5 separate regions of the Homo sapiens genome follow, and regions 1, 2, 4 and 5 are each linked to region 3. The links come from fine-mapping of genetic effects on gene expression. A gene starts in region 3. Each other region holds a variant in brackets. All regions are shown on one strand. Distances are from middle to middle. Region 1 overlaps PTPRS (protein tyrosine phosphatase receptor type S). Region 2 overlaps PTPRS (protein tyrosine phosphatase receptor type S). Region 3 holds the start of PTPRS (protein tyrosine phosphatase receptor type S). Region 4 overlaps PTPRS (protein tyrosine phosphatase receptor type S). Region 5 overlaps PTPRS (protein tyrosine phosphatase receptor type S).

Evidence for each region. PIP is the estimated chance that this variant, and not a neighbour inherited with it, causes the effect.
Region 1: its variant is fine-mapped to the expression of PTPRS in whole blood (TOPMed, PIP above 0.99).
Region 2: its variant is fine-mapped to the expression of PTPRS in thyroid (GTEx, PIP 0.91).
Region 4: its variant is fine-mapped to the expression of PTPRS in whole blood (TOPMed, PIP above 0.99).
Region 5: its variant is fine-mapped to the expression of PTPRS in whole blood (TOPMed, PIP above 0.99).

The regions. Positions count from the first base shown.
Region 1 is chr19:5,202,894-5,207,992 of GRCh38, forward strand. It overlaps PTPRS (protein tyrosine phosphatase receptor type S), which reads right to left. Exons shown (of 38, transcript NM_002850.4): 37 at 5,029-5,099; 38 at 2,615-3,949. The coding sequence ends at 3,881. Among named protein-coding and RNA genes, the nearest start is that of PTPRS-AS1, 28 kb to the left of the region's middle. The variant G/C (reference allele first, on the strand shown) is at 2,754.
Region 2 is chr19:5,295,232-5,300,330 of GRCh38, forward strand. The region is part of intron 1 of PTPRS (protein tyrosine phosphatase receptor type S); the gene reads right to left. Among named protein-coding and RNA genes, the nearest start is that of PTPRS, 43 kb to the right of the region's middle. RefSeq lists enhancers at 1-555, 2,968-3,468. The variant A/G (reference allele first, on the strand shown) is at 2,598.
Region 3 is chr19:5,338,773-5,343,871 of GRCh38, forward strand. It overlaps PTPRS (protein tyrosine phosphatase receptor type S), which reads right to left and starts at 2,040. Exons shown (of 38, transcript NM_002850.4): 1 at 1,892-2,040. RefSeq lists an enhancer at 1-101 and a silencer at 1,968-2,247.
Region 4 is chr19:5,260,821-5,265,919 of GRCh38, forward strand. PTPRS (protein tyrosine phosphatase receptor type S) reads right to left here. Exons shown (of 38, transcript NM_002850.4): 5 at 4,188-4,376; 6 at 2,144-2,152; 7 at 1-2. Among named protein-coding and RNA genes, the nearest start is that of PTPRS, 77 kb to the right of the region's middle. The variant G/C (reference allele first, on the strand shown) is at 2,148.
Region 5 is chr19:5,224,651-5,229,749 of GRCh38, forward strand. PTPRS (protein tyrosine phosphatase receptor type S) reads right to left here. Exons shown (of 38, transcript NM_002850.4): 15 at 4,841-5,034; 16 at 4,666-4,692; 17 at 1,077-1,194. Among named protein-coding and RNA genes, the nearest start is that of PTPRS-AS1, 49 kb to the left of the region's middle. RefSeq lists enhancers at 662-1,281, 1,282-1,900. The variant T/C (reference allele first, on the strand shown) is at 2,110.

The sequences.
Region 1 (5,099 bases), 140 kb before region 3:
GGCATGAGTCACTGCGCCCGGATTACATTGATTTAACACATACCTTATTTAGAAATGTGTTTTAAGGCTGGGCACGGTGGCTAACACCTGTAATTCCAACACTTCGGTGGGAGGCCGAGGTGGGCGAATTACTTGAGGTCAGGAGTCTGAGACCAGCCTGGCCAACATGGTGAAACCCTGTAACCCTGTCTCTACTAAAAATACAAAAAAAAAAAAAAATTAGCTGGGTGTGGTGGTGGGCGCCTGTAGTGCTACATACTCAGGAGGCTGAGGCAGGAGAATCGCTTGAACCTGGGAGATGGAGGTTGCAGTGAGCTGAGATTCAGCCACTCCAGCCTGGGCAACAGAGCGAGACTCTGTCCCCCACCCACCTCCCCGCCAAAAAAAGTATTTTAAAATTTCCCTCCCCCTTCCAGGGGAGGCTAATTACTCTTCAGAGCCAAGATCAGGATACCTCATCTAATATTTGTTTCTTGGAATTTGTGAAGATCTCTGTTAATATTTTTTGTTTGTTTTTTTGAGATGAAGTCTTGCTCTGTCACCTGGGCTGGGGTGTAGAGGCGCGATCTCAGCTCACCGCAACCTCCTTCCTCCTGGGTTCAAGCGATTCTCCTGCCTCAGCCCACTGAGTAGCTGGGATTACAAGCGTGTGCCACCATACCCAGCTAATGTTTTTTATTTTTAGTAGAGACGGGGGGTTTCACCATGTTGGCCAAGCTGGTCTTGAACTCCTGACTTCAGGTAATCCTCCTGCCTCGGCCTCCCAAAGTGCTAAGATTACAGGCGTGAGCCACTGCACCCAGCCGATCTCTGTTAATTTTCACAAATGTTCCATGTGCGTTTGAGAATGTTAGAGTAGGAGGGGATAATAGGGTTTGTTAAATATTTTTGGCCAAGCTTATTAATGATGTTAGTCACATCTGTATTTTTTTGACTACCTGATCTGTTGCTTCTTTTTTTTTTTTTTTTTTTTTTTTTTTGAGACGGAGTCTTGCTCTGTCACCCAGGCTGGAGTACAGTGGTATGGTCTTGGCTCACTGCAACCTCTGCCTCCCAGGTTCAAGGGATTCTCCTGCCTCAGCCTCCCAAGTAGCTGAGAATACAGGCTCCTGCCACCATGCCCGGCTAGTTTTTTGTACTTTTAGTAGAGACGGTGTTTCACCATGTTGGCCAGGATGGTCTCCATCTCCTGACCTCGTGATCTGCCCGCCTCAGCCTCCCAAAGTGCTGGGATTATAGGCGTGAGCCACTGCGCCCGGCCTTGATCTGTTGGTTTCTAAGAGACATAGTCCTATTCTTCCCTGAGCTGGGTCCCTGGTGTCACTAAGATCACCCCTTCTCATTCCTGGAACTTCCCTGAGGTCATAGGGGGCTCTTTCATCCTATCTCTGGCTCCTGTGGGTGGCTTCTATGCCCAAGCAAGAAGTGACTCAGGCAAGGGTATAGATACAAAATGGCTCACTCTCCATCCCCAGGGATGTGATTCTGGCTCAGTGCATGGATCTGCTCATTGAGTGGCCTAGGGGTGGAGCAGAGTGTCCCCAACCTGTTGCTTCCCTCCACGGACTCAGTTCTTCCCCAGGGCACTTCGAGAAGGCAGCACCGTGTGATGCTCAGGGCTGCGGGTGAGATGGGCTGGGGTACGAATCCCAGCTCCACCTCAAACTCATTGTGTGCCCCTCCCTGAGCCTCAGTTTCCTAATATGTAAATGGGGATTTTTTTTTTTTTTTTTTTTTTTTTGGAGATGGGAGTCTCATTCTGTCGCCCAGGCTGGAGTGCAATGGCATGATCTCAGCTCACTGCAACCTCCGCCTCCTGGGTTCAAGTGATTCTCCTGCTCCAGCCTCCTGAGTAGCTGAGATTACAGGCAGGTGCCACCATGCTTGGCTAATTTTTGTGTTTTTAGCAGAGACAGGGTTTTGCCATGTCGGCTAGGCTGGTCTCGAACTCCCGATCTCAGGTGATCCATCTGCCTCGGCCTCCCAACGTGTTGGGATTACAGGCGTGAGCCACCGCGCCTGGCCAAGGGGCTGGTAACTTCTATCTCAGAGTGTCTGGCCCATGGTGAATTCTCAGTCATGGTCACTTATTAGAATGAGAACACGAGGCAGCCCCTACAGGACCAGGGCTTGGGTTCAAATCTTGGCCTGGCCACTTCATCGGTGTTTTGAGTTTTTTTTTTTTTTTTTTTTTTGAGACAGTCTTACTCTGTCACCCAGGTTGGAGTGCAATGGCATGATCTCAGCTCACTGCAACCTCTAACTCCTGGGTTCAAGCGATTCTCCTGCCTCAGCCTCCTGAGTAACTGGGATTACAGGCGCCCGCCACTGCGCCTGGCTAATTTTTGTATTTTTAGTAGAGTTGAGTTTCACCATGTTGGCCAGGCTGGGTTTCACCATGTTGGCCAGGCTGGTCTCAAACTCCTGACCTTGTGATCCACCCGCCTCAGCGGTGTGTGGTCTTGGACAAGCACCACCACCTCTCTGGGCCAACTCCTCCTCTGACTGTTCACACAAGGAAACGAGATCAGCTCTCCAGGACCCCACCGACCTCCACCCCAGGGATGAAACTGGACAGGCAGGGGCGCAACAAAGACTCCACAATGGGCCGGGGTCAGACGATCTTCCTTTAATACAAAGTCGATATATCTACATACACGGGGGTGGGAAAACCACCCGGCTGCTTCCGCTGGAATAAACAGTGTTGAAAGTAACCGCAGACCTGCCCTTGTACAAAGAGGAACAACTCGCTT[G/C]CTCAGGGTAGGCGGGTAGAGGGGGGCCTGTCCTTCTGGTTTTGCTCCCAAACTGCCCCACAGTCCCAGGGGGAAAGGGTCCCTGATGTGGGGCAGCACAGCCATACAGCCACTGTCCCCGAAGAAGTAGGATCCTCTCTGTCTCCTTGGGGGCGGGAGACGGGGAGACAGCTCAGGCTCTCAGAGGAGGACCACTGTCATCTCTCTCCTCTTACAGCAGCGTCCCCCTCAACCGCACCCAACGCCACTGGGTCCGAGCTCCCCCATGACCTTACCCTCAGAACTGTATTTGATATGTCTGAAAATTTAATTTATAAAAATGAAACAAAAAGGGGGAAAAAAAAAGCCAAGAAAGAAAAAAGGACATCCCATTCTTCTGTGAGCAAAGCACACTTTCTGATGGTAGGAAAAATTAAAAAAAAAAAAAAAAAAAAAAAAGCCAAGGTACAGCCATGGGCCTGGCGTGCGCGTTTGCGAACGTAACTATCACACAAGGACGCTTTCTACAGTGAAAAAATAGACTGTCTTTGAACAGAATATGAATAAGCCAAAGTTAGTTCTCTTTGAAAGTCATTGACTGGCGAGTCTTTTGTTTGTTTCTCTTAAAAAAAAAAATGGAAAAAAAAATACACTATTTAAAAAAAATGAAATGTCACGGGATACAGTTACACTGAGAGTTTTAAAAGAAAGCTGGATTCTGGTCCCAGCCCAGTGTCCCCAGGCTGCAGAGCGGGGAGGAGCCCCCCGGGTCCCCCTACCACCGCTGGGGGAGGACGAGGGGTCCGTCTATGGTCTGTGCCCCACCCTCCTCTGGTTCTGGGGAGCACTCCTATTTGCTCACCATCCCCCCACCCCCCACCCCGGAATCTGGTTTTGGAATTGGAAGGAAAGGAGGAATGTGCCAAGTATTTGAAGGCGGCGGCCGGTGCCAGGGAGGTCGCTGGGGCGGCCGGGGCCGGTGGGGGGGCTCGAGGGGCTGCGTCGTCCTCGGAAATGGTGCAGAAACACAGCTGCTGCCGCTGCCACCTCCTGCCCTGCCCACTGGGGGTCCAGGCCTCAGGAGGTCCGCCCGGGAGGGGCAGAGGCATCCGGGGCCAGTGGTGTCGGGCCTGGGGGGAACCATGGCTTTAGGTTGCATAGTGGTCAAAGCTTCCGAGGTACTCCAGTGCCGCCTGGTAACAGAACTGGTACTCATCCTGGGGGAGCAGAGGTGACCTGTTAGTACCTCCGCTGCTCTAACGCCTCCCAGGGCTCCCTATCGCCCTCAGGAGCAGGCCAAGCTCCTCAGCCTTGTGCGTGTCTCTTGCAGAAGGTCTCTTTGGCCCCCACGGCCCTCCCACAATGAAGTGAGCTATGCCACACCTCTCTGCCTAACACAGCCAGGCTCTTCACCCGGAACGCCCTCTCCTCCCGTCTGCCTGGAGGCCCTATTCATCTTTTCTTTTTTATTTATTTTGAGACGGAGTCTCGCTGTGTTGCCCAGGCTGGAGTGCAGTGGCGCCATCTTGGCTCCCTGCAACCTCTGTCTCCTGGGTTCAAGTGATTCTCCTGCCTGAGCCTCCCAAGTAGCTGGGATGACAGGCGTGTACCACCATGCCCAGCTGATTTTTGTATTTTTAGTAGAGACAGGGTTTCGCCATGTTGGCCAGGCTGGTCTCAAACTCCTGACCTCGGGTGATCTGCCTGCCTTGGCCTCCCAAAGTGCTGGGATTACAGGCATAAGCCACCACACCCAGCCTCATTTCTATTTTTTTTGTAGAGATGGGGTCTTTCTGTGTTGCCCAGGATGGGCTCAAGCGATCCTCCCACCTCAGCCTCCCAAAGTGCTGGGATTACAGGTGTGAGCTGCCACGCCGGGTCCCCTCTACTCATCTTTTAAGACATGGCTGCTGTTCAGAACCCCCTCCACTGGAACATTCCCCTTGAAGCTAGGAGTCTGGGCCTCAGTTTCCCCATCTGTACATTGGTTGGACTTGGGGGTCAGTGGTTCTTGGCAGGGTCCAGGCTGAGCCACAGACTTGCTGTGACTTGGGGACTGCAATGAGCCCATCTCTGTCCACTCCAAGGGCCACTTCTCGCCTTTGACCTTCAGCTGACTGTTGTGTTAAAAGGGTTACTGGTCCCCTTCCAGTGCGGGAGGGGTCTGTGGACCGTCTACCCACAGTGACCCAGAGAGTCCCAGGTGGCTGTACCCATCTCACAGAGGAGGAAACTGGAGCTTAGGGGCAGTCGGGGCGTGAGGCCAGGCTGCCTCCCCTCCCTGTCCCATCTTTACCTCTGTCTGCACCATGGCCGGCCGCTGGGTTCGTAGCATCTTCACCGTCTGAAAGATGTCCACCACGCCTT
Region 2 (5,099 bases), 44 kb before region 3:
ACTGTCAGGAGGCTTGGGGCTGCATGACCTGCAGCATACAGGCCTGGCTCTGGGCTGCCCAGGACTCGGGACGGCAGACAAGGGCTTGCCAGCCGCTTCCCAGCCAGTCCTGCCCTCTCTGGGCCTCTTGTCCATGTCTCTGTGGAGGCAGACTCTTGCCCCTATTCCACAGTGGTGACTGCAGTTGGCAGGGGACACAGCCACCCCCGAGGGGCTGGGGGAGGTGGGCCAGGTGCCCTCCCCCTTGGCTGGGTGGCCCCATCAGCACAGAGCCCTACATGCGCCTAGTCCCCGGGTCTGCCTCTCCCACCAGACTGTGACCTCAGGAGGCAGAGCAGGATTTGTCTCGGTCACCCAGTGTCCCCAGCACCTAGCACAGGTCCACAGTACAAAGGAGGTTCTCAGCAAACATTTGCACAATCAGGCCCAGCCTCACCCAGGAGAGCCCCTCCGACCTTATTCTCCTCCAAAGGCCACACTGTGTGTGCCCTTGTCATAAAGCAGGCATCTTCACCTACCCTTTTTTCAAGACAGGGTCTCGCTCTGTTGCTCAGGCTGGAGTGCAGTGGCACCATCATGGCTCACTCTAGCCTCAACCTCCTGGGCTCAACCTCCTGGGCTCAAGTGATCCTCCCACCTCAGCCTCCTGAGTAGCTTGGACTACAGGCACATGCCACCACGTCTGGCTAATTTTTGGATTTTTTTGTAGACATGGGATCTCCCCATGTTGCCCCGACTGGTCTCGAACTCCTAGACTCAAGTGAACCTCCTGCCTCAGCCTCCCAAAGTGCTGGGATCACAGACATGAGCCCGTAATAAGGTTAAGCCCAGCCTACCCTTTTCTAAACAAACATTTCCAAGCCCCGATGCCAGGCACAATCCTAGACACACAGTGACCAAGACTGACAAAGATCCCTGCCCTCAGGGTGTGGATGCTCTAAAGAGGGTGACACATGAGAAACAAAAGAAATCAAATCCACTGTGGGTCAGATGGTGGTAAGGGCCCTGAGGATGATTGGGTTCAGGGTTGTAGGATGAGGAGGGAGGATCGCCTGAGGCCAGGAGTTTGAGACCAGCCTGGGCAATATAGCCCATCATCTCTACAAAAACTTTTAAAAATTAGCTGGGCCTGGTGGCGCATGACTGTGGTTCCAGCTACTTGGGAGGCTGAGGGCGGAAGCATCGCTTGAGGCCAGGAAGTTGAGGCTGCAGTGAGCTAGGATGGTGCCACTGCAGTCCAGCCTGGGCGACAGAGCGAGACTCTATCTCTAAAAAAATGTAAAATAAAATAAACACAGGATAGGAGAGAGGGGAGGTGACATGCGAACAAAGACCAGGAGAAGGTGAGAGAAAGTGAAAGAGGATTCCAGGCAGAGAGCTCAGTCCATGCAAAGGCCCCGGGGCAGCACTGCACCTGGCGTGTTGGAGGAATGGCGAGGAGGCCAGTGTTGCTGGAGCAGAGTGAGGAAGGGGAGACAAAGAGGAGGGGAGGGGAGGGAGGGGAGGGAAGGAATGGGGACAAGATGCGCACGGCCTCAGAGGCCTCCAGGAGGAATTGGGCTTTGACCCTGAGGAAGGTGGGAGCCATGGAGGGCTGTGGGTAGAGGAAGGCCCTGACTCAGGTACTCACAGACATGCTCAGCTGCTGTGGGGAGGGCAGACTGTGGGGGATGACTAGGCTGGGGCTGGACTGGGTAGAGGATGAGGGAGAAAGGCACATTCTAGGCAGACCCAATAGAATTTTCTAAACGGCTCATTTGGGGATGTACAGAAAAGAGGGGACTCAAGGATGACTTCTGGGTTTTTGGCCTGAGCACCCTAAAGGTTAAGGGTGGCCACCTCCAGGAAGCCCTCCCTGATTGCCCCGCCTACTCCGTGCCCTTGGGGGCTGACCCCTGGACCCCTCCAAAAACGTTCCATTGATATGTCCTCTGTATACACCCAGGAGGCGGCTGCCCTTGGGGAGGAACACGGGGCTGGATCACGTCAGCTCCCACAGCTGGGACGTTGGGGGGTAATTTTTTTCAAAATAACTTTTCTTCTAATTATAAAATAGGCGCGTGCAGCAGAAAATTAGGTAAAATCAGCATAAAGAAGAAAATAAAAGTTACCCACAATCCATCCCTCGCCTAGAGAGAAACTGTTTCATGCGGCCGTTCTCATTCATTCTTTCCCTGTACATGTGCTGAGCACCTACTGTGTGCTGTGCTGAGGACACAGTGGTAAGCATGATGGAACCAGCACTCCTGCCCCTGTTGGGGGGCACAGACTAGTTGCAGGGGGGATGGACACCCACAGAAAAACAAACACTGTCAATAACATAAGGCCGGGCAGTGCTAAGAGATGCCAAAAATAATTAAATAAACCACACTGCAAGGCTGCAAAAACTGGGGGGTCCCTGGGGGAGCCTCTTAGAAGTGGTGATAATTGCATTTACACCTGGAGGAAGAGAGCAAATCAGACATACAAACACCTATGACAACAGAGTTGCAGGCAGGAGGAACAGCAAATACGATGGCCCTGAGGCTAACCATTTCCTTCCAGTCTTTCTTTTCTTTTCTTTTTTTTTTTTTTTTTTTGAGACAGAGTCTCGTTCC[A/G]TCGCCCAGGCTGGAGTGCAGTGGCACGATCTCGGCTCACTGCAACCTCTGCCTCCCGGGTTCACACAATTCTCCTGCCTCAGCCTCCTGAGTAGCTGGGATTACAGGCGCACACCACCACGCCCGGCTAATTTTTTGGGTATTTTTAGTAGAGACAGGGTTTCACTATGTTGGCCAGACTGGTCTCAAACTCCTGACCTCATGATCCGCCCGCCTCGGCCTCCCAAAGTGTTGGGATTACAGGCGTGAGCCACAGCGCCCGGCCTCCTTCCAGTCTTTCTTCTATGCATACGAATGGGTGCTTTTCTTTCGTTCGATGGGGATCACCATTAGCAGACCATGTTCCAGTGTCCGGGTCACAGAATTTAATCAATTCCCACTTGTTTATCCCATTATGTCCCTTATAAACAACACTGTGAGGGACATTCTTAGACACAGCTGTGTCCCTTCGTCTCCTGAAGAAACTTCCAAAGCAGGGGTGACTGCATTGGGATGTTCTCAAGCCTTTAAACCTTCCCTGATGGGGAACCCTCAGATAAAACCATACCCTTGACCGGGGCAGGACCCCCTCCCCCAGCCTGTCTGTCCCACCTCCTTCATATTTGGCACCAAAACCCCCAGACATTTCATTTAGGTACAAACTCTGTACTCTTGGCTGTGAGAGCCAGAGAGAAACTGGTTGGGCAGCTTCCTCTCAGCTTCCCTGCCCTGGTCTTGCCCATGCCCAAGGCTCCCGCCTCCTACCTAGCACAGCATTCATGACCCGGGGCATGGGCGGGTGCCAACCAGCCAGGAGCCCGCCTCACCCATGTTCACATCACAGCCCTGGCGCCGGGTCTACCCGCCAGCCGCACCGCAGCGGGCATGATGCCCACCACAGGCACGCCCCAGCTCCATGTCTGCCTTTTTCACCTGTCCGCCCCCGCAGGCCAGGCTACCTTCCCCTTCCTGGAAAATGTGTGACACCTTCAGGCATGGCTGGATCCAGCAAAGCCATTCCTCCCATGTCTTCCCCAACTCTGCTGATAGCAGCTCTGTCCTTCCAGGGGCTCAGGCTAGAACCTGGAAGCTGGCCCTCACTGCTTTTCCTCCCTCACCCCATATGGTGTTGGTCTGGAAATACTCTCACGTTTGTCTCCTAAATTTCTACTCACTTTGTCCATCTTTCTCCATATTCCCTTCCCAACCCATCCAGCCTGATCATTGCCTGCTCGGACCAGCACAGTCACCTCTGCCCTGGTCCCCAGCCTCCCACCCTCGCCCTCCAGTCTGTCCTCCCCACAGCACCCACTACATGGTGCCGGTGTGCACCTGAGTCAGGTCCCGTCCCTCCTCTGCCCACAGCCCTCCATGGCTCCCACCTCCCTCAGGGTCAAAGCCCAAGTCCTCCTGGTGGCCCACAAGGCCCTGCATGACCTGCTCCATCTCCTCCCTGCCCTCCATTCCTCCCTCTCTCCCCCTCACTCTGCTCCAGCTACATGGGCCTCCTCGCTGTTCCTCCAGCACCCCAAGTGCAGTCCTGCCTCAGGGCCTTTGCACAGGCTATGCCTCTGCCTGGAACACTGTTCCTCTACATTTTCTTGTCACTTTTCTTCTCACCCTTCCATTCTCCCTCAAGGATCACCTCCTCAGAAATGCCCTGGCTGACCACCTGGCTCAAGCAGCACCCATCACCCATTACCCATTATTTTACTGTCACCTGAAATTCTCTGTCTTTACTCACTGTCTGGGTCTGAGTTATCAAATACAAGAACCACTAGTGGCTGGGTGTGGTGGCTCACGCCTGTAATCCTAGCACTTTGGGAGGCCAAGATGGGTGGATCTTCTGAGGTCAGGAGTTTGAGACCAACCTGGCCAACACGGTGAAACCCCATCTCTACTAAAAATACAAAAATTAGCCGGGCATGGTGGTGCGCACCTGTAATCCCAGCTACTCGGGGCTGAGGCAGGAGAATCGCTTGAACCTGGGAGGCGGAGGTTGCAGTGAGCTGAGATCGCGCCATTGCACTCCAGCCTGGGCAACAAGAGTGAAACTCTGCTTCGAAATAAAATAAAATAAAGGAAAAGAAAAAGAAAAAGGACCACTAGCCACATGTGACTCATTAAACTTAAATGAAGAAAAATTAAATAGGCCGGGTGCCATGGCTCCCACCTGTAATCCCAGCATTTTGGGAGGCCAAAGTGGGTGGATTGCTTGATGCCAGGAGTTTGAGACCAGCCTGGACAACATGGCAAAACCCCATCTCTACTAAAAACACAAAAATTAGCTGAGTGTGGTGGTGCACACCTGTAGCCTTAGCTACATGGGAGGCTGAGGCATGAGAATTGCTAGAACCCAGGAGGTGGACACTGCAGTGACGTGAGATCATGCCACAGCACTACAGCCTGGGCAACGGGGCGAGACTCCATCTCAAAAAAAAAAAAAAGAAAAGAAAAAGAAAAATTAAATAAAATTTAAAATTCTGCTCCTCAAGTCACACCGGCCACATTTCCAGTGTGGCT
Region 3 (5,099 bases):
ATAAACGCTCCAGCAGCTGCCGCTGGTATCGCAGGAGCAGAGGAGCGGGATGGCTTCCTTCTCCCGGGCGAAAGGCGGCAGAAAGAGGGAAGAAGGGCGCCCCAGACAAAGAGGCGCCGTCACCCTCTGCACCCCAAGGACAGCAGCGATAGGGGGCCACCCAGAGGAGGCCAGAATCCCAGCAGCCAAAGTCCGGGTGGTGGCGGACGGGAGCCCGGAGCGTGTGGGTCCCTGTCCTTGGGACCCTAGGGGTCTCTTCCTGCCTCCTCCGGCTTCTAGGTATCATCCCTGCTGCTCAGCCGGGACTCCGACACCTCGGACACCCGCTTCACTAGCCGCGGCTGCCGGGATGTGTTTTTAGGGTCTCGGCCAGAGGCAGGAGGACCCCATGCTCAGAAGGGGGCTCCCCTAGATTGTGACGGGGGGGGACAGGGGAATCCCAGCTGAGCCCAGAAGGGGGAGGCAAGGCACCCCCAATGAGGCTCTGGGAGGTTTGTTAATTTGGGGGAATGAGGTCCCAGGAGGTGGCTGGATTTGAGGAAGGGTTGCAGAGGAAGGGGCGTTCTTGGAAGCTGCATATTTAGGGAGACGAGAAGACGATTTGAGACTGGGGAAAGAGGGTCAACCGAAGAAGGAGGTCCCAGATTTGGGGCGGGGGGTGTGGCTGAAAAAAAGATTCCCAGTTTGTGGGAAAGGTTCCCTGATTTGAGGATTCTGGAGAGAAAGCGGCCGAAGGGGAGTTCCCCAATTTGGGAAGGGGGGGAATTGGTGGGAAATGTCCAGGATTTGTAGGGGGAGGTCCGAAGGGGAGGATCTTAATTTTAGGAGAGATTCCCATAAAGAGAGGTGAACTTGGCCGCAACCTGGCCGAACCCTCGCACCCACGGCGCGGGCACTCTAACCTGGGGGGCTCCCCTCAGGGCACGCCCCGCGCCCCCTTTAACCCAGTGCCGACGGCCCCGCCCCCGGTATGACGTCACCTCCCCTCCCCCCGCAGCCCCCGGGGGCTCCCGGGGCGTGCGGAACCCGCGGGGCTGGCGGTTCCAGGGGCGGCTTCCCCACTCTCGGGATCCCCACGGGGCCCCCAGCGCGGAGGGGAGACTGGGGTGCTGGGCGTGCGCGTCTGCCTGCCAGAGCCCCTGGGGCTGGGGGCTGAGGCTCGCCCCTGGGTGGGGAGGCTGGAAGGGGGCGCCGAGGCCGCAGAAGGGTGGGGCAATGCCCGAGTGCCGGAGGGGCGACCTCCCATAAGGCAACGACAGGGCCCGGAGTGTTCCAGGGGAGACGGCGTAGACTAGGGGGTCTCCAGGGGAGGGAGACCCGGAGAGGGAAGGCGGCGGGCGCAGCAGCCCTGGAGCCACCCCGCCTGGAGCCACCCGTCCCGGCTCCTCTCCGCTCCGGGGCGCCCGCATGCCCCCCATCCCCCGGCACAGCGCCCCCTGCCTCCAGGACCCGCCCGGGGACCCGGGCCGGGCGCCGCCGGGGCCGGCACCGGCTCCGCACACACGCGCGCCCCCCTCCGCGCCTCTGCCCCGCCCGCAGCCCGGGGTGGTGCAGCCGGCGGCGCTGGGCAGCTTCCAATGCCGCGCTCTGGGCGCTTCCAGCCCAGCCCCCTCCCACGCCGCGGACGAAGCCCCCCCAGCACCCCCTGCCGAGCGCCCCCAGCGCGGCCCCGGCCCTGTCCCTCGGGGCATTGTCCGGGCGCAGCTACCGGGGCGCAGCGGCTGGGCGTGCAACTGGCTGCAGCCGAGCATCCTCCGAGCACAATGGCCGTGCAGGCTTCCCCGGCACAAAGCCGGCGCGCTGCCCACTCGGCTGCCTCCGAGACCCCCCTTGGAGCGCCTGCATTTTTTTTTCCTCTAATCCATGATTTTATTTTTTTTTTTGGCTTTACCTGGAGGCTGGCTGGGCTGGGCTCCCCCGGCTCTGCCCCGCTTCACATCGTGGCTGTTGCATGGGATCCGAGCGGAGCCCGAGCGCCAGCGGCTCGCGGCGTGCGCGCGCCGGCCGGGCTGCCGGGCGGGCGGCGCGAGGACACTCACTGCGGCTCGCGCTCCCCTAGCTCCCGCTCGCGCGCCCCCCCAGCCGGTGACGTCATCCCTTCCGCCAGCGCCGCCGCCGCCGCCGCCGGGTCGGGGGCAGGGCCGGCCCGTGCGCGTCACTGCGCAGCCGCGCGGCCGCCACGCCCCCCGGCCAATGGGACGGCGCAGCGCGGTCACGTGGCTCCGGGGTGTTTAAAGGGCCGCGGGAGCACGTGGGGCGCGGGGCTTCGCGGGACACGTGGGCGGCTGGGGTGGTGGTGGTGGTGGCGGCTGCGGCGGCGGCGGGAAGGGCCCCTGGGGCTACTGTCCGTGCGGGAGCCCCAGCGTCCTGGGTGCAAAGGGCATGGCACTTTCTGTGCGCTGCCCTAAACTGTGCCACGGCTCCCCAGTACCCTTGGAATAAAATCCCGCCTCCTCTCTGCAGCTCGCCGTTTCACATTAGCGCCCACTACCCTGTCCCCTCCCCCCCACCATGTCAATGATCCAGAAAAACCAGCTGCTCCTTCTTTGCTTTTTCAGAGATGGGGTCTGCCACCTGGGCCTCAGTACAGTGGTATGATCATAGCTCACTGCAGCTTCAAACTCCTGGGCTCAGGTGATCCTCCCGCCTCAGCCTCCTGAGTAGTTGGGCTCGGGTGATCCTCCCGCCTCAGCCAGCTTCTTACAGTTCCTCTAACTTGAGCATCCAAGAACTTCCCCTTCTCATCTTTCCAATTTCTGCTCAAATAAGCAGCGCCTGGGAGAAGCCCTCCCTGACAACAGCTACCAGCCACGCCCCACTCCACTCTATCCCATTATCCCGGTTTGTTGTTGTTGTTGTTGTTTGTTTGGTTTTGAGTCGGAGTCTCACTCTGTCGCCCAGGCTGGAATGCAGTGGCGTGATCGCGGCTCACTGTAACCTCCGCCTCCTGGATTCAAGCTATTCTCCTGTCTCAGCCTCCGGAGTAGCTGGAATTACAGGCGTGCTGTCACCACGCCTGGCTAATTTTTGTATTTTTGTTAGAGACAGTGTTTCACCATGTTGGCCAGGCTGGTCTTGAACTCCTGACCTCAGTGATCCGTCCACCTCGGCCTCCCAAAGTGCTGGGATTACAGGCGTGAGCCACCGCGCCTGGTCCCATTATCCCGTTTTTATTCTAGTTACACTACAGTGTGGCTCCAGAGATCCCTATTGTAGGTTGAACACATGAATGAATGGATGATGGAGCACTTCTTATAGAGTAAGCACTTTACACAGGTCTCACCTAATTACCATCCCCTGCTTCCCTGGAGTCAGGACGAGCCACAGTTGGAACCCAGCTAAAACACTGATTTGCTGTGTGAGGCCCGGAGCCTCACTTTCCCCATCTGTAGAATGGATTTGCCTCTGGATCTCAGCTCTCATCTGTAAAATGGGGCAAGGTAGCCCCTGCTCCTAAGGAGGGTGTGATGATGAATTGCTATAATGTGGCAGCCTGGCTGCCATTGGTGCCTGAAGATGGAATAATAAGAGAAAAGAGGCCGGGCCCGGTGACTCATGCCTGTAATCCCAGCACTTTGGGAAGCCAAGGTGGGCAGATCACTTGTCAGGAGTTCGAGACCAGGCTGGCCGACATGGCGAAACCCCATCTCTACTAAAAATACAAAAATTAGCCGAGCGTGGTGGCAGGTGCCTGTAGTCTCAGCTAGTTGGGAGGCTGAGGCAGGAGAAACTCTTGAACCCGGGAGGCGGAGGTTGCAGTGAACCAATATCACACCACTGCACACTCTAGCCTGGGCGACAGAGTGAGACTCTCAAAAATAAGGAAAAAAAACAGAGCGGAAGTAAATAAAAGGGGGATATTGACAAAGGTAAGGGGGTTGGAGGGCTCACAGCCACCAAGCAAGATTGCACATCAGTCCTTGTGTTTTGATCATGTCGAAAGCATTTATTTCCTCAAGGCACATATTTGGAGAAGGCCTGGTGCCCAACAGAGGAACTCAACTTTAGAATTGGTTTTTTTTTTCCTCCAAAATTGTTGATTCATTCATTCCAGGCCACAGATGCAGATAAACAAAAAGCATTAACCCGGGGAACAAAACGATAAGGCGGAAGTCATAAACAGGAGAAAAGAGAGGAGATAATGAATAATTTAACAAGGAACCTAATTTAAGCTTGGAGTTTCCCAGCGGCCAGTGCAGCAGCCACGTTTGCAGAGCCTACTTTGTTTTTCTTCCTGGTGGGGTGACCCTGATCTGACCGTTTACAATCTGGCCTCAGTTTTCTCATCCAAGCAATGGGAACACGATCCCATCTTGAAGGATCAAATGGGGTGGTCTGTGCACAAATGCTTAGCGTGGTTTCTCACGCACAGTGGGTGCTGAAGCCTTGGAGAATTGGTGGAGACACAGTAAAATGAGATGGCTGATCGTGGAGGGGCTGATCATGGCACGAACCCCAGCCCAGTGACCTGTTTGGGAGGTGACCTCAAACAAGTGGCCGCAACACTGTAAGCCTAGCTGTCCCCATCTAGAAAAGGGGGACAACCACTAGTACCTCTGAGGGATTTTGTGAGCAGTCAAAGAAAACAGATTAAATACATCAAAAACAGAATTAAAATACATTGTAGCAGCTGGGCGCGGTGGCTCATGCCAGTAATCCCAGCACTTTGAGAGGCCAGGGCGGGTGGATCACCTGAGGTCAGGAGTTCGAGACCAGCCTGGCCAACATGGCAAAACCCTGTCTCTGCTAAAAATACAAAAATTAGCCAGGTGTGATGGTGCATGCCTGTAGTCCCAGCTACTCATGAGGCTGAGGCAGGAGAATTGCTTGAACCTGGGAGGCAGAGGTTGCAGTGAGCTGAGATCACACCACTGCACTCCAGCTGGGCAACAGAGTGAGACTCCCTCTCAAACAAAAAATACGTTGGCCAGGTGCGGTGGCTCACGCCTGTAATCCCAGCACTTTGGGAAGCCAAGGCAGGTGGATTGCCTGAGCTCAGGAGTTTGAGACCAGCCTGGCTAACATGGTGAAACCCCATCTCTACTAAAAATACAGAAATTAGCTGGGCGTGGTGGCGCGTGCCTGTAGTCCCAGTTACT
Region 4 (5,099 bases), 78 kb before region 3:
TTCTGTAAGGGAAGCAGAGAGAACCAGGTGAATGTCACAAGGCGGTTGTTGGGGGGCCGGGGGGCCCCAGGGAAGCTGGGCTGGGCCGTAAGCCAGGCCTCAGCACTCTGCCCCAGGGAGGGGATCGAGCCAGCCCTGGGCATACGGACCCTGCGGGCTTTGCTGAGGAAGCTAGGAGAGGCCTCCTAGGAGCAGGGTGAGGTCTGAGGGCTTGTCAAAGCAGGAGGGTTTCCTGTAGAAGGCGGGAATCTCTGGGGGTGGAGGGATGGAGTCTAGAAGCCTCTCTGGATGGGTGAGGGGCGTCTCTATGCCCAGGGAAGGTCTGTCAGCCTGGCCCTTTGGTGGCCTTCCCTCTGGGCTGAGGGAGGGAGGTTCATCACCCCCCCTTCCTTCTTTCCGTCTTAGGGAGCCCAGCAAGAGACTGCTTTCAAGTCCAGACTAGGAGGGGACAAGGAGCAACAGGAATTATCTTGTTAGAGACAGGGGAGGTGGGTGGGGTTAGTGCCCCAGTGCCGGGCATTAATACAGCCAAGGAAGGGTGTCACAGACAGGCCGAGTAGGAGGGACAGGGAGAGCCTGGCAGCCTTCTTACCAAGAGGAAAAGAGGAAAGACCTGTTTATCTGGGCCTTGGAGGCAGGGATGGTTAACTGCAAAGCAGGAAAAGGCGGCTCGGGGCTGGAACGTTACTCCCTCTGCTCATGATCCAGGGAGAAGTTTTGGGCCCCCTTCTCTCTGCTGCTGATGGCCGATAACTTGATAACTCGGCTGGCTGGGGCCAAGAAGATCCCAAGACCTCGATCTGCCAGGAGTGGCCAGACACGTGAAAAAGCAGCTCCTTCTGCGTGGCCCAAACCCATTTTGCAGACGGGCCAACTGAGGCTCAGAGGGGAATCTCTGAGGTCCCATCATGAGGCAGGGGTGGGCACTGAGCCTAGCTCTCCAGCCTCCTGGGATGAGGAGCTTCTGGCCTGAACTTTTCGGAGTCCCTGAATTATCTTTCGAGGTGTTCTCGTGAGGCCACTCTGCACCCTTTAGAGGGGAGCAAACAGAAGTTTGCCTAAAGTTACACCCTGGAGAACTGGAATCCGAGTCAGCGGAAATCCAGGCTGGCCTTTGCTAGGACACTGGGATGACGATGGTGGAAGTCAGGGTTAAAGAAAGTCTTTTCAGGCCGGGCGTGGTGGCTCACGCCTGTAATCCTAGCACTTTGGGAAGCCGAGGCAGGTGGATCACCTGAGGTCAGGAGTTTGGGGTACCAGCCTGGCCAACATGGTGAAACCCCGTCTCTACTAAAAATACAAAAATTAGCCGGGTGTGGTGGTGGGTGCCTGTAATCCCTGCTACTCAGGAGACTGAGGCAGGAGAATTGCTTGAATCGGGGACGTGGAGGCTTTAGTGAGCCGAGATGGTGCCACTGCACTCCAGCCTGGGTGACAGATTAAGACTGTCTCAAAAAAAAAGAAGTCTTTTCAAGTTGGCCAAATCACTCAGGGCTATTCTATCAAGTGGAAACAATGTATCCCTTAGCCATTAAAAGGTGTTCCGCCTCCCACCCTGAGAGAGATGAAGGGACTGATAGCATAGGCTGATATCAGTCACTCTCACTTTAGTATGAATTAGTCCCACAACTGATTTCAGGAGATTCAGGCTGAATGCTGAGAAAAGTGGATGAGAAGTGCCCAGTAGCAGCTAGGCTGGAAAAATCTCCACTCCACGCCCAGCCCCAGCCCCCAAACTTCTGTAATTAAATCCTTTTCCAGCAGGGCTAAGGCCAAGAAAAAAGTGCGGGAGGAAATGTTGTTAGGTGCGAAGTTCCATGAGCCCGAGGATGCCTCTGAACCCCCCTCAGCCTGCATTTTGAGGTCTGCCTGGCCTTGTCTCTTTTCCTCTTTTCCTTTGGGTGGACTTGTCTCTTTTCCTCTTTTCCTTTGGGTTTCTTTCTCTGCCGCACACTAGTGCCAGCTGGGGAGGGCTGAGGGGCCGGTCGCGGGGAGGAGGGAGAGGGCGTTAGTAAACATACCAGGCAGAGTGGGTCACAGTTACCATCACGGTGGCTGTTAGTTTGGTGAGGAGAAGGGGAGCAGAAGGGGCACAAAGGGGATGGGGCGTTAGTTGTTGACGTGGTGATGAAATCAGACTTACCAAA[G/C]GTTTCTGAACGTTTACAACAGGAGGATAAGAAAAGAGAACAGGAACGTTAACGGGTGGTTACAAAGAATCCTATGTCCTCAGCGAGGAGGGGAGGGCGGGGGAGGGGAGGGGGACGCTCAGAATAATAATAACAACATTTCTTATGATTCCTAAAGTGGCTTATGTTCACTGAGCACCTAGCAGGCGCTAGACATTCCATCCTGGAGAGGTCACCAGAACACAAGGAAAATAGGCATGTTTTATGGGGAAACTGAGGCCACCGCTCCCCCTGCTTGCAGAGGCCTATGAGCTGCAAACATCCTCAGCCAGGCTGGGAGATAGGAGGCGATTTGTCCCCCCAGTGTGAGGTCTGAGTCTCTCCAAGGAAGACATTCTGGGCTCCACGTCTGATCTTTTTGGGGCTTGGTTTTCACTAAGGAGGAGGAGCAGAAAGCGGAGAACAGGTAGGTAGGCTCTTTGGTGGGGGGCAACGATGGGCAGTGAGTGAGGGGCGCTGGGGATGATTCGGGGAGGTACTGCTGCAAAGGGGGCTCCGTGGCGGGATCCTCGGAGGAAGGGGAGAGAGAAAGCAAAAAGAGGGGTGTGTGGAGGTGCAGGGTGATCTCAACAGTGACCTGAACGAAGGCAGGGCGTCAAGCCCGGCACAACTGAAAACAGTAAATCCGTGACACAGACAAACACGCATGTGCAGCCACACGTGTGCTCCCAATGTATGGAGACACATCCCCACCACGTGTGTCCCCACGCACGAGCACTAGGGAGGTGCAGGCTGAGAGGCGCGTGCGCGGATCACTGCCCTGTGTGCACAGGCACGGGAGTGACTGCAATGTGGGTGCACGTGTGGCCGAGATGCAGGCGGACACTTTGCTCCGGGCGGGGGAAGGGAGGCCCGTGTGTGACAGCAGCCAGGCCTGCACACCTGTGCCCACAGGCGGGAGGCAGGCCAGGCCGGCACAGGGAGCCCAGACATGCACACGTGGACATGTCGTGAAGCGGGGGGACAACACACACGCAGACACAGCCCCCCAGACAGATGGACCCACAGATGGGCCATGTGGGTGCTTTGTGGAGACACAATGGTGGAACCACCCGTCTCCAAGGCTCTGTCCCAAGGTCTCCCTAGCCCAGCCAGGGCCTGAACAGACAGGCTGGACTGCCCGTCTGTGCCCCCTTACAGACCTGAAGCCCCGCCATCACCTCTTACTGCTCAGCCTTGGAGAGACTCTCTCCCTGTAGTTTTCTATGGCTCCCCATCACCTTACTTGTCACCTCTGGACACCTGCCATTGCCTTACACAGCTTCCACTACTCCTGCCTGTCTGGGCCCCACTGTATTCTCACTGGACGTGCCTAATGCTTCTGTAGAGGATGCTCTCTGCCACCTTCCATAGCTCCCTATTACATACCCATTGAAGCTGGTCTCCCCTTGTCACCCTCCATGGCTCACTGACACTTCTGCCTGTCTGTCTCCCATTGCTTGGGCACTGCCGATACCCACCATCCTTGGCGGCTTTCTTTCTTTTCAGAGATGAGCGTCTTGCTACATTGCCCATGCTGGTCTCAAACTCCTGGCCTCAAGCAAGCCTTCTGCCTTGGCCTCCCAAAGAGCTCGGATTACAGGCATAAGCCACTGCGCCCAGCCCCCTCAGTGGCTTCCTATCACCCACAACTGTCTGTGGGTGACAGCTGTGATCTCACTGCCTGAGCATGGGAGACACTCTCCCCGCCCATGGCCCTATATAACTCCCCATCCTTGTGCATGTCTGCATCCATTATATCTTCATTGGCCAGGTGTTGAAGCACTATTCTTCTACCACCCTCTATAGCTCTCCAGTACTCATGCCCATCTGTGCCCCCTAATATCCTCAGTGTGCGGCTTTGAAGACATTTGCCCCCACTCCCCCAGAGCCAACGCCTGCCACGGCCACACACTGTCTCTGTCTGTCCTCCAGTAGTCCCCAGAACTTGGGCCCTGGAGATGCTCCCCACCCCCTGCTGCCCTCCAAGGCTCCCACGTCCTGTCAGCCACCCTCACTCACCTGATCGCAGCTGTTTGATGCGTCCATTGCTGGCACTAGGATCCACAGGCAGGAAGTCCTTGAACCAGGTGATCTCAGGGTCAGGGTTGCCGCTGGCTGCACAGAGCATGGTGGCTGTCCGTGTCCGCTCCACCACCTTCAACTGTGGGCCCATGTCGATGTTGGGGAAGCCAGAGGGCAGCTGGTCCTCTGAGGGCAGAGACGTGAGAGAAATGGGCATGGTTCTGAGCACTGCACAGCCACTCCTGAGCCTGGGGCTCAGGGACTGCCTGGCCACGGGTCCAGCTCCTCCCTGGCTGCGTGACCTCAGCCATGGGTGCCATCCTTTACAGCCAGTTCTCTCTCTTTTTTTGAGACAGGGTCTTGCTCTGTTGCCCAGGCTGGAGTACAGTGGCTCGATCATAGCTCACCGCAGTCTCAACAACCTGGGCTCAAGTGATCCTCCTGCCTCAGCCTCCTGAGTAGCCGGGACTACAAGCATGCGCCACCACGCCTGGCTAATTTTTAAAATTTTTGTAGAGAGGGGGTCTCGCTGTGTTGTCCAGGCGGGTCTCAAACTCCTGGCCCCAAGCAATCCTCCCACTTCTGCCTCCCAAAGCACTGGGATTGCAGGCATGAGCCACTGCACCTGGTTGGGTCCCTCTTCTGTACAAGGGGGAGGCTGGTGTCAGGGAGCTGAGCCAGGTAGAATGATATTTCTCACTGGGGGGTGACTCTGCTGCCCTGGGAGACACTGGGCGATGTCTGGGGATATCTGAGGTTGTCACAACTTGGGGGTCAGGACTTGGGGGTGGGTGCTCCTGGAATGGACTGGGTGGGGCTGAGAGATGCTCTACACCCTACTACATATAAGCACAAACCTGGCCCCAAGGTCCACAGTGCTGAGTGGGTTCATTTACAGCAGCCTGAGGA
Region 5 (5,099 bases), 110 kb before region 3:
GCAGCGTATGCAGTGGTTTCTGCTTAGCAAACACAGCTCTAATACAATGTCCCTGAGAGAGGAGGGAAGTGCCCTGCTGGCTAGAAGAAGGGAGGGAGAGATCACAGGAGGCTGCTTGGAGGAGGTGGCGTTAGAGCTGGATGCTGGAGGACGCAGACAAGGTGCGTGAAGGGAATAGTGTGGACAAGGGCAGGGGCTGTGTCCAGCTGGGAGGCCTGAAAGGTGGGGTACACAGTGGTGTGGCTACAAGGGTCCCCGAGGAGAGGGTGGGTGTGGGGACTGGGATGAAGGCCACAGAAGTCAGTCGATTGTTCCTGAAACACCCGAGCTTGTTCCGCCCACCACCACCACCACCACGCCCCACCCCCCAAGTCTTTTTCTGGGCTGTGCCCTCCGCCCGGTGTACCCTCCCCTTACATCTTCACGGCAGCCTCTTTTTCTTAATTCAGCTCCATTTTGGCTGGAAAAAAAAGCCAGCCCCTTGGGGACGATGGAAGGGACAATGGAGGGGCTAGAAGGGGAAACTGAGGCAGGGCCACCAAGAGAAAGGTGGCTTCCTGGTGCAGTAGGGGAAGACAGGTGCACCACCCTGAAATAACAACCTAGCCGGGGCGACCAGAGCCTGGATGGGGGAAGCACAGGAGACTAGGGGGCCCAGAAGGATCAAGATTATGGGATGAGGCAATCAGGGAAGGCTTTCCAGGGCCAGGTGTACCTTGAGCTGAGACCTAAAGGCAGAAGAGGAGCCAGCCAGCAGGGGAAGGGGTATCCTGGCAGAGGGAACAGCCCAAGTAAAGGTTGAGAGGGCAAAGGGGTCAGAGGTGGCTGTTAACTGTTTCTGTCTGGTGGGAGCCGGGGGGACAGGAAGTGAGTGACAAAGGAGGAGGCAGGGGCGGGGGGGGCCAAGCTGGGCCCTGGACACCCACCTGAGCAGCCCTCACACCTTTGTCTCACTGTTCCAGCTGCCTGGTGCACCCTCTGCCTGCCCTTGTGAGCTCAAGGACTCTGGAGTCACGCTCTGGTGCCAGTGGGGGCAAAGGGGCTGTTGGTGGGTGGGAGGAGGGCGGGTTGCATACCTGCTCCCTTGGTCACAACCACCTTGGGTTTGCTGCGAGCGCCATCGCCCTTCATGGTGTAGGCGGCTACCGTGATGGAGTACGCGGTCTCAGGCTGCAAGTTTGTGATGACCATCTCCTGCAGGCACGGCTGGGGGTCAGCACGACGGCTGGGGCTGGGAGCAGCCCCACCCACCCCCACTCCCCGTGCTGAGAACAAGCAAGGAGGATGCAGGGCCCGGATCAGGGGTGGAGACGTGCACATGAGCTCATGCAGAGACCACGACACGTGGCATGGCCATGCTCAGAGGGTACATGCAACAACCCAGCCGGACGAGCCCATTGTCGCTTGCCAGGACCAACTCGGTCCTCTCTGCTCCGCTCCCCTCACTCCTTGCCATCACCCCCGACAGTCTGTCCTCCCCACAGCAGCCAGAGGGCGCCTGTGAGCACTGGAGTCAGGGTCCGTCCCCGCTCTCCCCACAGCCCTCCATGGCTCCCACCTCTCTTGGGGTCAAAGCCCAAGTCTTCCCTGTGGCTCACAAAGGGCTCTCCTTGCTGTTCCTCCAATGCACCAGGCACAGCCTGCCTCAGGCCCTTTGGCACTGGCCTTCCCCCCTGTCTACACCCACTGGTGTGCTGGAGGTGCCCGGTACCAACTCATGAGAGCCGCTGGTTAAATTTTCAGGAATTTTGTGAGCCACTTATGAAACAGAGCTGTTATTAAAAATTAAACTGTACGAGGCTGGGCGCAGTGGCTGACGCCTGTAATCCCAGCACTTTGGGAGGCCAAGGCAGGAGGATCACTTAAGGTCAGGAGTTCCAGACCAGCCTGGCCAACATGGTGAAACTTCGTCTCTACTAAAAATACCAAAAAAAAAAAAAAAAAGCAAAAAAGCCAGGCGTGGTGGCACATGCCTGTAGTCCCAGCTACTGGGGTGGCTGAGGCAGGAGGATCACTTGAACCCAGGAGGCGGAGGTTGCAGTGAGCCAACATCGTGGCACTGTACTCCAGCCTGGGTGACAGAGCAAGACTGTCTCAAAAATAAATAAA[T/C]AAACTGTATAAACTTACAATCAACTAAGTTATATTGAAAGCAAAGGCAATAAATACAGCAAATCTAGTTATTTCACTAGGGTTACTGTTCTCTGTGGGTATCTGTATGGTTACTGCTTTGAGATCATCTTGTCTATTGCATCTGTAGAGTAGGAATACATGATTATGGGCTACTGGGCACCTCCCCGGTAGCTTGAAATTGACATGGTGGGAAGTATTTACACCATGGAAACGGTCCAATGCTACAAAACAGGACTGCCCCCTCCTGCCCACCCAGAGAGCTGATTTTTACTCTTTTATCTTATTGAGACAGGGTCTCACCCTGTCGCCCAGGCTGGAGTGCAGGGTGTAATCATAGCTCACTGCAGCCTTGACCTCCTGAGCTCAAGTGATCCTCCCGCCTTAGCCTCCCAAGTAGCTGGGAATACAGACGTGCACCACCACATGCCTGGCTAATGATGTTTATATTTTTTGTAGAGATGGGATCTTGCCATGTTGCCCAGGCTGGTCTTAAACTTTGGGCTCAAGTGATCCGCCTGCCTCTGCCTCCCAAAGTGCTGGGATTACAGGCGTGAGCCACTGTGCCTGGCTGAGAGCTGATTTTTAAATGTTTATTTCACTGTCTAAACCCCATCCCCACCACAGCTGTAACAATTTTTTTTTTTTTTTTTGGACATAGAGTTTCGCTCTTGTTGCCCAGGCTGGAGTGCAATGGCATGGTCTCAGCTCACTGCAACCTCTGCCTCCCTAGTTCAAGCAATTCTCCTGCCTCAGCCTCCCGAGTAGCTAGGATTACAGGCATGCGCCACCACGCCTGGTTTTGTATTTTTAGTAGAGACAGGGTTTCACCATGTTGGTCAGGTTGGTCTCGAACTCCTGACTTCAGCTGATCCACCCGTCTTGGCCTCCCAAAGTGCTGGGATTACAGGCGTGAGCCACCATGCCCTGCCGATGTGTGTTTTGTTCCGATTAACATCCCTCTCACTGAGTATGACTGTTAGGGAGGAGGGGCTCTTGTCACCACCACATCCTCAGCATCTAGCACATAGTAGGTGCTCAATAAGTGAGTGCTCGTCCAATGAATGACAGCACAGAACACTCCCGGGCACGCGGACTTGCACAACACCTGTGCACACGATCACAGCATCATGTGTGCCCATGTCTGCAAGCACACACGCACCCCCCCAAGCACAGGCCGGCATGCCTGGGAACTGTGGGGTAGACCCAGGCCAAGGGGATAAGGAGGGGTGACGGGGATGCACAAACAGGGTCTCCTACCCCTGAGCCTCACAGTCCATCCCTCCCAGGGTCTCTGCGAGAAGAGCAGAGTTGAAGCCCAGGTGGGAACATTCCCTCTAGATCCAGTGTGGGTGAGAGATGGGAGGCATCAGAGCATGTGGGACCAGTGCCTGTTTGTTTGTTTATTAGAGACAGGATCAGCCAGGACCAGTGGCTCATGCCTGTAATCCCAGCCACTCGGGAGGCTGAGACAGGAGAATTGTTTGAACCCAGGAGGTGGAGGTTGCAGTGAGCCGAGATGGCGCCACTGTACTCCAGCCCGGGCGATAGTGTGAGACTCCGTCTGGAGAAAAAAAAAAAAAAAAGAGACAGGGTCTCCCTCTGCTGACCAGGCTGGACCGCAGTGGTGCCATTTTGGCTCACTGCAACCTCTGCCTCCCAGGTTCAAACGATTCTCCTGCCTCAGCCTCCCGAGTAGCTGGAATTACAGGTGCCTGCCACCACACCAGGCTGTTTCGTATTATTAGTAGAGAAGGGGTTTTGCCCTGTTGGCCAGGCTGGTCTTGAACTCCTGACCTCAGGTGAGCCACCTGCCTCAACCTCCCAAAGTGCTGGGACTACAGGCATGAGCCACCACGCCCAGCCAAGGGACCAGTGCCAATTTAATGTCAGACCTGGGGTTCTCAGCAGAGACTGGTACTCCCGTTTTAGGGGCAGAGAGGTAGTCCAGAGAGAGGTAGCAACTTGCCCCAAGTCACACAGCAATTCCTCTCTGGTTTAAAGCATTGTGGGGTTGTAACCAGGCTATCACAGACATCCTTCCCCACTCTGGCCCCGCTGACACCTCTCATCACCCGGGGGCCAGAATGAAGACGACAGCATATCCAGAGAGAGGCATTTCTAGGCCAGACAGGGCTGAATTGAGTGACAGTAAAGGGTGGGGCTGGGTCAACAGGAGAGGAGACATACTCACAGGAGAAATGACTACGGGCAGGAGAAGGACCCAGGAGGCTTAAGCCCCACCAATGGCAGGAGCCATCAGGGTGAGAGGATTCAGGGACGACCCTCAGGTCCTGTTGCTCAAGCCACCCTCGGGTCTGCCCCCTGGGGCGCACAGTGGTCCGAGTATCCCATTTCCCTGGTGCAAACATCGAGGCTGGGCGCTCCAAGAGGTAATGGGAGAGCGAGGGGCGCATGGGAGGGCCCAGAGGAGGAGACCGTTTTACTACTGATGATAAGGGGCGTGCAGGAGTCACAGCACAGCACGGCCCGCGGGAAGCGCACAGCAGTAGGTGGGTGGCCAGGGGCGCTACTTACATATTCGGCCGTGTCATCCGTCTCCCACTGAGCGCGGGAGGAGGCGGCAGGGGAGAGAGGAGGAAGGTGAGCGGGGGAGGCCAGAGATGGAGAAAGAGAAGCAGAGGTGGGGGGAGCGCAAGGGCCCGTCCCCGCCCGGAGCCCGTCCCCGGCCCCGCCCCGGCCCCCCGCCCACCTGGGCATCGGCCAGCATGACGTCCTTGATGCGCGGCGGCCCGCGGGCCTCGGCGCCCTCCATGCGCACGTAGTGGACCTGGTAGCCGCGGATCTGGCCGTGCTGCCGGCCGGGCGCGGGCGAGCGCCACAGCACGCGGATGGCCGTGGCGTTGAGCGCCTCCGCCTCCACCTTCCGCGGCGGCGCGCTGGGCACTGGCGGGCGGGAGGGGAGGGGAGGGGCGGGCGGAGCCGTTACCAGGGCGCCCGGCCCTGCCCCG